Regions from separate parts of the Homo sapiens genome. Here region 2 is linked to region 1. The links come from fine-mapping of genetic effects on gene expression. A gene starts in region 1. The other region holds a variant in brackets. All regions are shown on one strand. Distances are from middle to middle.

Evidence for each region. PIP is the estimated chance that this variant, and not a neighbour inherited with it, causes the effect.
Region 2: its variant is fine-mapped to the expression of POLR1D in whole blood (INTERVAL, PIP 0.93).

What each region holds. Positions count from the first base shown.
Region 1 is chr13:27,619,516-27,624,890 of GRCh38, reverse strand. It overlaps POLR1D (RNA polymerase I and III subunit D), which reads right to left and starts at 2,999. Exons shown (of 2, transcript NM_015972.4): 1 at 2,882-2,999; 2 at 1,442-2,016. The coding sequence starts at 2,907. The coding sequence ends at 1,641. LNX2 (ligand of numb-protein X 2) reads left to right here and starts at 4,362. Exons shown (of 10, transcript NM_153371.4): 1 at 4,362-4,516. RefSeq lists silencers at 2,743-3,302, 3,923-4,812 and an enhancer at 3,606-4,334.
Region 2 is chr13:27,656,343-27,661,717 of GRCh38, reverse strand. It overlaps a transcript of POLR1D not described here. Among named protein-coding and RNA genes, the nearest start is that of POLR1D, 37 kb to the right of the region's middle. The variant A/G (reference allele first, on the strand shown) is at 3,178.

The sequences.
Region 1 (5,375 bases):
TTTGAGACAAGGTCTCCCTCTGTCACCCAGGCTGGAGTGCAATGGTGTGATCATGGCTCATTGCAGCCTCAACCTCCTAGGTTCAAGATATCCTCTCGCCTCAGCTTCCCAAGCAGCTGGGACTACAGGCATGTGTCACCATGCCTGGCTACCTTTTTTATTTTTTTGTAGAGACAGGGACTCCCCATGTTGCCCAGGCTTGTCTCAAACTCCTGGGCTCAAGTGATCCTCCCACCTTGGCTTCCCAGGTGTGAGCCACCATGCCGAGCCTCACAATTTTTTTTTAAGGGGCTCTTATAACACATGCTTTATGAGAACAGGACTTACTCTGTCTCATCCACTATAGCTATATATCTATCCCCAAGGCCTGGAACATACTAGTGCTCAAAAATATGGATATCTCTTTAAAGAATTTGGCTGAGTGTAGGAAATGTAGGCTCTATGGCACGCTAGTGTAAGAGGTCAGGTTTGAGTGACTGAAAAGCTGCATGCCATAACTACTTACATGAATTCATAGAGTATTTACTAAGTGTCCACTACCTGTCAGGTGTTCCAGGTACCAGAATCATGTTGACCTCCAAGTTGGTTTAGTGGGTAAACAAGATAAGCACTACCAATAGCATAGTAAATGCCAAGGCCAGGAAACACAGGGTGTAATGAAAGCACAAAGAAGTACCCAAACTAGGCTGAGAGGCCTGACACATAAGCTTTGACTTAAGAGTACGGCAGGAGTAAGACTGGCCCAGGAAGAGGGGATAGATAAACAAGGGCCCAAAGCACAGAGCACTGGCGGGTGGGATATGTGTTTTCCAAAACAGTCATTTCCCCTATATGGAATTTTCCTTCTCCTTGGCTTTACCTTCTCTCAAATAGGGCTTCTTCTACATTACCCTAGGCTATACCTACTTAAGGACTGAAAATGTTTTCTAGTCATCCCAATTTTCTCCTTCTGTAATATAATCAAAACATCTTACCTTACTTAGATCATGACTAAGTATATCCCAAAATTCAAGCAGTAAACTGGTATCTTTCCTGTAAATGCCTCAAAGATGGAGCCTTACTCCCTAAAACTCTCATGTAAAACCAGAATTCTCACACTTCTTCCAAATTATTCCCACCCTTGCCAAGTCTACCAATCACAGCAAATGATGCAATTCTTTAAAAGCCAAAAAGTTTAGCAAGAAGCCAAGTCCCCACCCCAATCTTCTTTCCTTCTGTTTTTAAACAACAATCTAACTGGGGTCATGGTTTTTGTCTCTTCCCTTACCCCCACCACTCCAACTACAGACATGGATATATACTTCTTTTAATTCCCATGATCACAGTTCTTGTCTAGGCCTCTGATATTCTCAGTTTCCTCATTTTCAATGCTGGCTTAATTAGAAAAAAAGTCATCCTCAAGGACCATTTGGTTGCATGGAACAGAAACCAGTCAAACTAGTTTAAATAAAAGAGGGAATTTATTAGAAGAATACAGAGGTTCTTGCAGAGATTCCAACAGCTGCAAGGGGTCAACAGCTAGAATCACGCCTTTCTGAAGGACAGAGTATGCTGTAACCACAAACTTCTAATTCTGGGTTCTGCACCATCAGGAAGAGAATATCCTACAGGACAGTTCTCCTTGTATACTGCATAAAGGACTAGAATGTGGATTCATTTCTGCTTGCTTTTTGATCCTTATAGTCCTTTATGCTGGCCTCAAACTTGTCAAGCACATGTTGGCAGACATTCATGAGCTCATTCAGGCCTCTCTGAAATGGCTCAACAGCTGGAAGGGTACCTCGAGTCTGAATGCGTAAATTAATTTTGCTCTCTGAAGGATGGGTCGTAGTGTAACCACAAAATTCCACTTCCGGGTTCTTCATGATCATGTAACGTAGAGAATTTCCTAGGGTATGGTCTTCCTCGTGCAATACAAATGTCACACAGTGTCTATCTGTTCCAGCTGCCTGGACCATTTCCAGGGCTGTCTTCCTCTCGCCTTCAGCCATTGAGGTCTTCAATCCAGATATTTTTCTACACACATATTTTTTATAAAAATGAGATCATACTGAATATTGTTTTGTAACTAGCTTTTTCTCATTTACTATATCACATTGCAACACATTATTATTAATCTACTCCAGCTACACAGAATTATTCGCCTCTCATTTTCCTGCCTCCACAAACTCTATCAATAAATATTTAATTTATTGCCTCCAGTTTTTCCCTGCTCCATTTGACCATCCACACTGGCCACAAGGGGAGTTTTCTTAGAAAAACACAAACTTAAGTGTTTGCAAAAATATTTTTTGGTAGAGTCACAAGCAAGGGATAGGATTAGAATAGGACTGGTCCTGCTAGAGGATGAAGAGAGGGTTGAAAGGCATAGAAATCCCGATTGCTCTAGTATAAAAATAGAGGATACAGATGATCAATGTGCAGGCCCAACTACGGCTTCCATTTTGCAAGAGAAGGAAACTAGGAGAATGGAAGGTTCAGGAGTCAAGCAGCAGGGAGAAAAAGAGCTCAGCGCACAGAGTGGCTTTAGGAGCAGTCTGCACATAGAAAGAAGGTGAGCCGTAGTTACAGGGACAGAGGCACGAGTACCGTCCTCAGGAGCAGAGGCCCGGGGCGTGATTTTTACACACTGCTGTTGTAACGGGGGTGGGCAGTTCGGATACTTAACTCTGGTCTCCCAACTTGTCTTCCCTCCTTGATAGCTAGTGTACCTCTCAGCCTCTCAACTGAAACACATTCATGTCTCCTCCCCACTTCTCTCTCCATGCTTCTTCTCTGCGCCCCGAGTCAGGCCCCGGCTGCCAGGCCAGGCAGCGTGCCCCTCGGCCACCCGCTCCCCTTGGGCGCGGCCCGCTCCGCCCGCCTCCTCCTCGGCCGTTACCTCTCCAGCTCCTGATCCTCTTCCATCGCTGGGGCGGTTTCTGGATCCTCAGGTGGTGCTGGCGGATCGGGGGCTCTGTCCCATAGCGCGAGGCGCGGAGGCGAAGCAGGAAGCAAGGACCGACCGACGGAAGGCGCGGAGGACGGAAGGAGGGAGGAGGAGCCGCAGCGGCGCGGCAGGGCCCAGCCGCGGGGCGGGGCATGAGGCTCCACCCCCAGCCCCCGCCCCGACGCGGGGTGAGCGGTGGCTCGCGGCCCCGCGGCTCACCTGGGCGACCACGCGAGGCCACTCGCGGCGGGAGGGGCAGGGGGCGGGGCCAGCGCCGCCTTACCCCGAGGCCCAGACAGGCCTGCGGGCGCCCCGGCTCAACTCTGGTACCTTTCCCCAGGTGATGGCGAAGGGGCGCGGCCTTACCTGCCGCCCCCAAATCACTTCCCTTCCCAGTGGCAAGTCCGAAAGCGGCCCGACTTCCCAACTGGGGCGGTGTTGACCCAGGATGGCCCTTCCTGGGACCCCGGCCCTCCCGGGCCTTTTGTGGGACGACAGGCTTAAACTGTAGTCGGTCAACACACCTTGAAGAGGGAGGGGGGTCACGTGCGAGATGAGTCACCACAGAATACGAAGGTTGAAGGCGGTATTTGTTTCACCGGGGAGCTTGCAGTTGCATTTTCAACTGGGTCAAAATAGGGCAAGAAAGAAATGTCTCTTTTGGGGGAGTGAGAGTTTGGGAGAAAACTGTTTCCCACCTTATCCTTTCCGTCCTAGGATTCCTTCTACCCCCAGAGCGCGTCCTCTCCGGCTGTAGACTTCCTTTTCCCTTTCTCCCCAGTGGCTCCTCAAACCTCCTCACCTGCGGAACCCGCCCTCACCTTTGTTCCCAGGCGCCCAGCCCCCGCCTCGGCAACCTTTCGCCGCCCAGGCTCGCTCTCCATCCAGCTCCCTGCGTCCCGGCCTTCGCTGTGCTCCCTCAGGTGCGCTTCCTCTCGAATCGGCCCTTCTTGTCCCCTCGCCGCTGGCCCCGACCCTGCCCGACTCCAGCTGTCCAGCGCAACTACGTTTCTGCTTCCCTGCGCCACCTGTTCTCCTGGCCTCCCCCCACCCCGCCCCGCGATTCCTCTGGATGTTCACTCCTTCCCCAGCTGTGCCACTCTTGGCGGCGGCCGGGGGTGCGCGCAGACACCTAGCCAGCGGGGCTTCCGCAGGGGAATCAGGCGGGCGGCGGGGACAGCCCGGGGCGAGTGGGGGAGGCGGGCGGCGAGGGCGGAGTGGTCTCACTCTAACCCGGGAGTGACGGGTCCCTTCTGGCCCGCCTCCCGAGCTCTCGGATAGGTGGAGCCGCCCTCTGGTCCGCCCACCTCCCGCCCTGTGCTACCTCCGATTGGCCCGGGTGCGGGTTGGGCCGCTCGGCCTTGGCGCTGCCCCCGGGAAGGCAGCAGGGGCGGTTGAGAAGTGAAGTCTTGGCCGGAGTTTGCTTTTTGCCAGGAAATCCGCGGCGGCGGCGGCGGCGGCGGCGATTCCTGGCGGAGCGGAGCCGGGCAGGCTCTCCGCTCCCTCAGCGGGCCGCGGAGAGCGGGAGCTGGTGCCGAGCAGCGGCGCCAGGAGCCCGTGCGCGGCCCGGGCAGCCGCGCTTTCCCAGTGAGTAACTTTGCCCTGCCCGCCTCGCTGCGCGCCCTCTCGCTGGCTGCGGGCAGCCGCCTCAGGTGCGGGCGTCAGCTGGGTGTGGGTCAGCGCCGCGCCCCGGGAGGCGGCCGGAGCGGCGCCACAGCTCGCCCCGGAGCCTTGGTCCTTCGCGGCTGTCTTCGCTCGCCCGGGCTGCGGGGCTGGCGTGGACTCGGGTGTGGGTCTGGTCCAGGAGGGAGAGTCGGCGCCCGGTGCCCGCCGCCTGCAGGCGCCCGGGAGGCGGGCGGCCTCCGGCTGTTAGCGTTTGCTGGTTCCGGCCACCGTGGTGCAGAGCTTGGCGTCGTTTGCTTCTTAAGGGAAGGGAGAGGTGGGGTGAGTGTTTAAATTTCCTCTGTGTGTGTGTGGTGTCGGCAATGAGAGTGGCACTAGCTGCCTTTATCGGGTTTTGTTCTCTGGAAAGGGATGGGGAGAGATCATTCCCTCCGCCCCAGCCTGTTGCCTGTGAATTCTCACCTTTCTCTTTAGGCTGGAGAGGGTGGGAGAGAGATTTGACATCTTCCAGGGGGTAATTTAAAAATATGAATCTTGATTTGGAAGCAGTTGCACACAAAGCATCATTCAGGAAATACATCACTCGCTTTTCAAAGCTGTATGCCACGTTTTAAACAAGGACTTTTGACTCATGTAGTGTTTCTTTTAGTATTTCAGTTTACGTTAAGTTTATGAATCCAGACGTTCGTTTGTACCAGGAGCTAAAGTACACTTATGCATGGGCTTTGCTGTGTATATTATGCTTTTTAAAATCACAGAAATCAGAAACAAAGTTGAGTGAAAAGCGGTGGCGGTGCAGGAGGAGGAACACTTGTGAGCTCCA
Region 2 (5,375 bases), 37 kb before region 1:
ATTATTTCTTACTGCCATTTCCCGCCTCCCCCGATCTTCCACAGTATTTGAGATGACATGATAAACTGGCATTAGACACTCCACCATTCCTGGCTTTTCTCGTATCAGCTTTAGGGTAACCATCTGAGCCCTGAAATTGAGCATAAGATCATAGGCCACGGCTGCCTGCTGTGTCTGCACTGTCTGTCACTGTCTATGCCCAAAAGGTGTGCTGGGGGAAGGACTGGAGGAGGCCACAGGACAGGGCAGCTGATTTCCTGTCTTAGCTCTGACCTGGGGGGCGACTTTCTCACCCTGGCTAGTTATTTTTATATTTAGTTTATTTTTGTTTCTAGAAAGTTATGCTAGCTCACATGGTAAGAGCCAGATTTAAGGTGCTAACAACATAAATGGATATAAACCCTAAATATCATGAGACTGGTTAAATCTGCTTTGGAAAGTACCCATGACACAATGTCAGATTTGAGATCTGGCATTCTATCCAGGTTAAACTTTAAAAGGAAAGCAATTTCCTTCACTTTGAAACCTGTGGGCTCAGAGGCTGTGATGGAAGGGTTCCACATGCCATGGGAAAGGCTGACTGCTCAAGAATCTGCCACTGGAGAGATGAAGACTCACTGGGGCTAGAATTATAAGCTTTTCATCTTTTTTGTCTCTCTTGCTGAAGGATAGAGGTAGTAGTATCTAACTTTCCACAGATTTAGACCTGCTACCTTTTGCTTCTAAAATATTTCCTGAATAGGACCTATCTGAGAGTGACACAGGATCGCCAGCCAACAGGGTACGTTGAAGACACAATTACCTTGTGCTATTCCATTACCAATGTTGCCTCATTTCATCTCCACAGCCGTCATCCGAAAGGAAAGAAAAGAAAAAAGGTACAGCGCCTATCCACATCCCAAGCTAGTAAGATGCGGAGCCAGACTGGAAGCAGGGAGTCTGGAAAGGGGCAGAGAGAGTGGAGCAGAGAAAGACTCACTGCAGTCCAACCAGATGGCCAATTAACAGAGCAGTCAAGAAAGAAACCGCAGGTGAAAAGCTTGTCAGCACGCTGTGGCTAAGGCTCCTCATCCAGGACAGGCATGAAGCAGCAGATGCACACACAGTGACAGGTCTGCTGAGAACAGCTGGCCACTCAGGAGCCCAGGAGAGTCACCAACACAGCCAAGGACAAAGGTGGAGAGTCCCTTAAACATGCCTGACTCTGAGATGTGTGAAGTCGAACAGGTAGTGGGAAATAAGAATTATTTTTATGGTTAGGGAATAGACACCTTGGAGTCATGGAAGCAAGTTTCCATGCAGTGCACTTCAATGCGTTCTTTTATTCTATGGACAAATCCATTCCCATACTAGCAAATAGCGTATCTTCCATTCTGTACGTGTCTTTGCACTCTCATGGATGTAGGTCTGGAATAATGCATCTAGAAAGACTGAAGCAGAGGCCTAACTCTCCCAACTCTGCATGAAACAAGGGGAATATTTTTTATCTTGATGCTGTGGTTGATTACAACTCATTTTGTTGTTTAATGCTGCCACAACTACCAAAACCACCCATGGTGCTACAGTTTATAATTTGGCAATCAAATGCCTCAGCATGTGGCCACCTGAAAAATGCTTTTTATGGTGTTATAATCCCTATTAGTAAGCTGTTAACCCTTAATTACTGTGTACAACAGTCCTGAGGCTCACAGTGGGTGTTCAATGACTGTCTCCAACATTGTACCTAAAAGTAATAAAAAATCATTGACATGTGTTTGTCTGTATATGTATGTGTGTGTGTGTATGTGTGTGTATATATATATATATATATACACCTGAGATATGCAACGCATTATGCTAAGCACTGTAGCAAAGATACATACCAAGCTATCTGTTTATGTGTCTCTGTCTTTGGAGACTACCAAGAGGAACAGAAGGTAGGGGAAGTCAAAGTTCAGAAGCAGATACGTGAATAGTAACACACTGAGACAGTTTGCAAGGCTATAATCCTCGGCCTCCAGCTCCCTCAGCAACGCAAATCATTTACATAGATATGTGCTCTAACAGTAACACATTCAGGGCTCTCTCATTCACTTTCATAACTGGATATGAAAGGAATGTGGGAAGCAGGGGCAGTAAGCATTGGCATTTCAGCATGTTATCAGACAATAATCCACAGAGAGAAGTGATGCCATACAAGGAGTGTTAAGTGACAGATAGGAAAGCAAAGTTATAGTCCCATCAGCAATTCGCTAGCCAGGGCTTTAGGAAAACTCTTTGGGTTTCATGTTCTATACGTATAAAGGCTTTGGATCTCTGTGGCCTGAAAATATTGCCAAGAGCCTCCTCCACGAATCGTCTGAGATGTGAGCCCTTGCTCCCCTCCTCATTGGTTCTAACACAGTCAGTGTGGCATGCCACACTGTGATCACTTGATGCTTGTTTCTGTATCCACCAGGGGATTAAAAACTTTAAGGCCAGGAAAGTGAGTCTTCTTTACTGCTGTCCATGATCAGCCTCTTAACATACCTGCTGGTGCCCTGTGAATATTTATATAAATAAATAAACACATGTCTGGATAAAGACTGGAGAAATTATTTAGTTTCCAATAATCAACAGTTGATGACATAAACTGGAAGAACAAGATGGGTGACTTCCTTCCATATCTCTAGATTGACTCTCAATCCAAACAGAAAAGCATAAAAAAAAGTCATTCCCCTTAAAACAATTGGGTTAAGAGAACTCAAGAATCATTTTCTCTCAATTCAACCTTTAGGATTTATTTTGCCAAAATATAAGCTTTTCCAAGTATAAGGCTGAAGTTCCACAGGCACTAGACTCAGAAATTATATTGGGCAGTAGATAAGCTAAAGTGAATGTGACCAGAATTAAAACAGCTTTGTAGACAATGAAGCTGGGCAAATTTCTGAAATTTATGCTTATAAATTCCTTTATGTTGACTAAAAGGAAGTCATATGAGCCAATATTTCAGCTTCTCCTAAAGCATCTGTCAACAACAGCTTCTAAAGAGATTCTTTTGCTGAAATACATCCAAGGAAGAATATAGCACCAAATGGTCTCTTTCTTTATAAAATAAAAAATGGCATCCCACTTGCATTTTCTTTAGATCAGCAATCTCTCTCTGGCAACTGCTCAACCATCTATTTCTTATGGAATATCCAAAATGAAAAAAATAAT[A/G]CCACTCACTCTAGTTCTATTTTAAATTTTAAAGCAAATAAAAGGTCTTCTAGATACTTAGAAAAAAACAGGCCATGGCCACTAGTGAACAACAGATTGCTACTCTTTTAAGAACTGTCCAAGAAGTCCACTCCACAGCGATGGGTCTTGGGACTCTTGTGGCTGAACACCTGGCCAGGCTACCTAAGTGCTATTTCAGTGCAGAGGAGCTGTCTGCCTCTGGCCGAGGTGTAGGATTGTTCTGGATTCTGCAGAGCAGGCTGGTATCATTCTTTTTAATAAAACAAAAGGGACTAGTAAAATGTTTTTCAAATTTGTGTTCACTTTAGAATCACCCGGGTAGCTCTTTAAAACTCCAAAGCCCAGGCCACACCCCAAGTTCATAATCACTGATAGTGGGGCACAGGCATCAGTATTTTTTGAAGCTTTCCAGGTGATTCCAAATGTGCAGATAAATTTGAGAACTAATGACTAGTGGTTAAAAGTTTCTCACATACACTTATTTAAATAAATGGAAACCAGGTGATCTTCCAGAACGAGCAGATGAAGGGCAGGTGCCCTTTGTCCCAGCACTAGTGAGTAGAAGCAAGCCACGGTTGTCATGGGTCCAGACCTCCTTTCATAGCCCATATCTGTTTGGGTGTGCTGAACTGCTGGACTGAACTCTGGCTAGGAAAAAACAGTTGCCCCTGGAATAAGCAAGTACCCAGAGATTCCTGCTTCCAGAGCAACACAGATCAAGAATCAAAATGTGAACATTATGAGAGAGATAGAGAAAAATGCAGATAAACTTTTTATTTTTAATGAAGTGAAGTCTTCTATGGGATTGACTTGCTCAATTGTTCAGAGCAGTGCTTCCCAAACTTGATTGATGAGATCTTCTAGTAAGCTTAAAAAACTAACAAACAAACAAAAAACCTGTAGGACCGATCTTAGACTTCTCTATCAGAATGCCCTAGAGTGAGGCAGGGAAGGAGATGTGTATTTTTATTTTTTATTCATTTTTTATTTTTTTGAGATGGAGTCTTGCTCCGTCGCCCAGGCTGGAGTGCAGTGGCGCAATCTTGGCTCACTGCAACCTCCGCCTCCTAGGTTCAAGTGATTCTCCTGCCTCAGCCTCCTGAGTAACTGGGAACACAGGCGCCACCATGCCCAGCTGATTTTTTGTATTTTAGTAGAGATGGGGTTTCACTGTGTTGCCCAGGCTGCTCTTGAACTCCTGAGCTCGGGCAATCCACCTGCCTCGGCCTCCCAAAGTGCTAGGATTACTGGTGTGAGCCACAGCGCCTGGCTGGAGATCTGTATTTTTAAAAACCTCTCCAGATTATTTTCTAATTAAAAAAACTCTGTTAAAAAGTGATAAATAGAAGACATATTTGTTATATATTACTGTAACAGAGCCCCTGGTAGAGGGTTACAATGGATAGCATTCCCTGCTTCTCATGCTCCCCTTAGTGCTCACTGTTAGGAGGCCTAACTTCTCACAGACCTTTATGCGTTACGGGGTCCCATGGCCTTCCCTGACCTGGCCAATAGAGGATTACATGCATTGATCCACAACTCAGGTTTTCACATACATAGTAGATATTTTCTCACAAGGATTCATATAGTGCTGACCAATTCTTTTTAGTGACTGTAAAATATTCAACAGTAGGATGTACCACAGTTTATTTAAGCATTTTCCTATCTATGGACATTTGGACTGCTTCCCTTTTTTTACTATCAAAATGTGCTACAATAATTCTGTACTTAGGTCTGCACACATTTATTAAGTTCTATGAAAGAGGGATTACTGGGAGCAGAGATCCTGGGTAAAGGGGCACAGAGAACTGTGACTCAACATTTTGCCCATGGCCCTGCACAGAGCAAACCACACCACTGCCTGAAGCACAACACTGCACCCCTTTCCACATCCCTTCATCTCCACTGGATTACTGCCTCTTTCATTTCTGCCAATCTAATGGTGAAATTTAAGTGCTATTTAAGAGGAATATAAATACCTATGCATGCACTCCCACCCCCATTAGATTATAAATTCCAAGAGAGCAGGAATCTTTGTCATTCTGTTTACAGATACATGAGTGTCAAAATAGCAGAGCCTAGCTCTGCTAAGTACTCAATAAATGTGTTAGTATGTTTACTTACTGGCCATTTGTAGTTTTGATATATACACATACACATACACAGACACAGACACA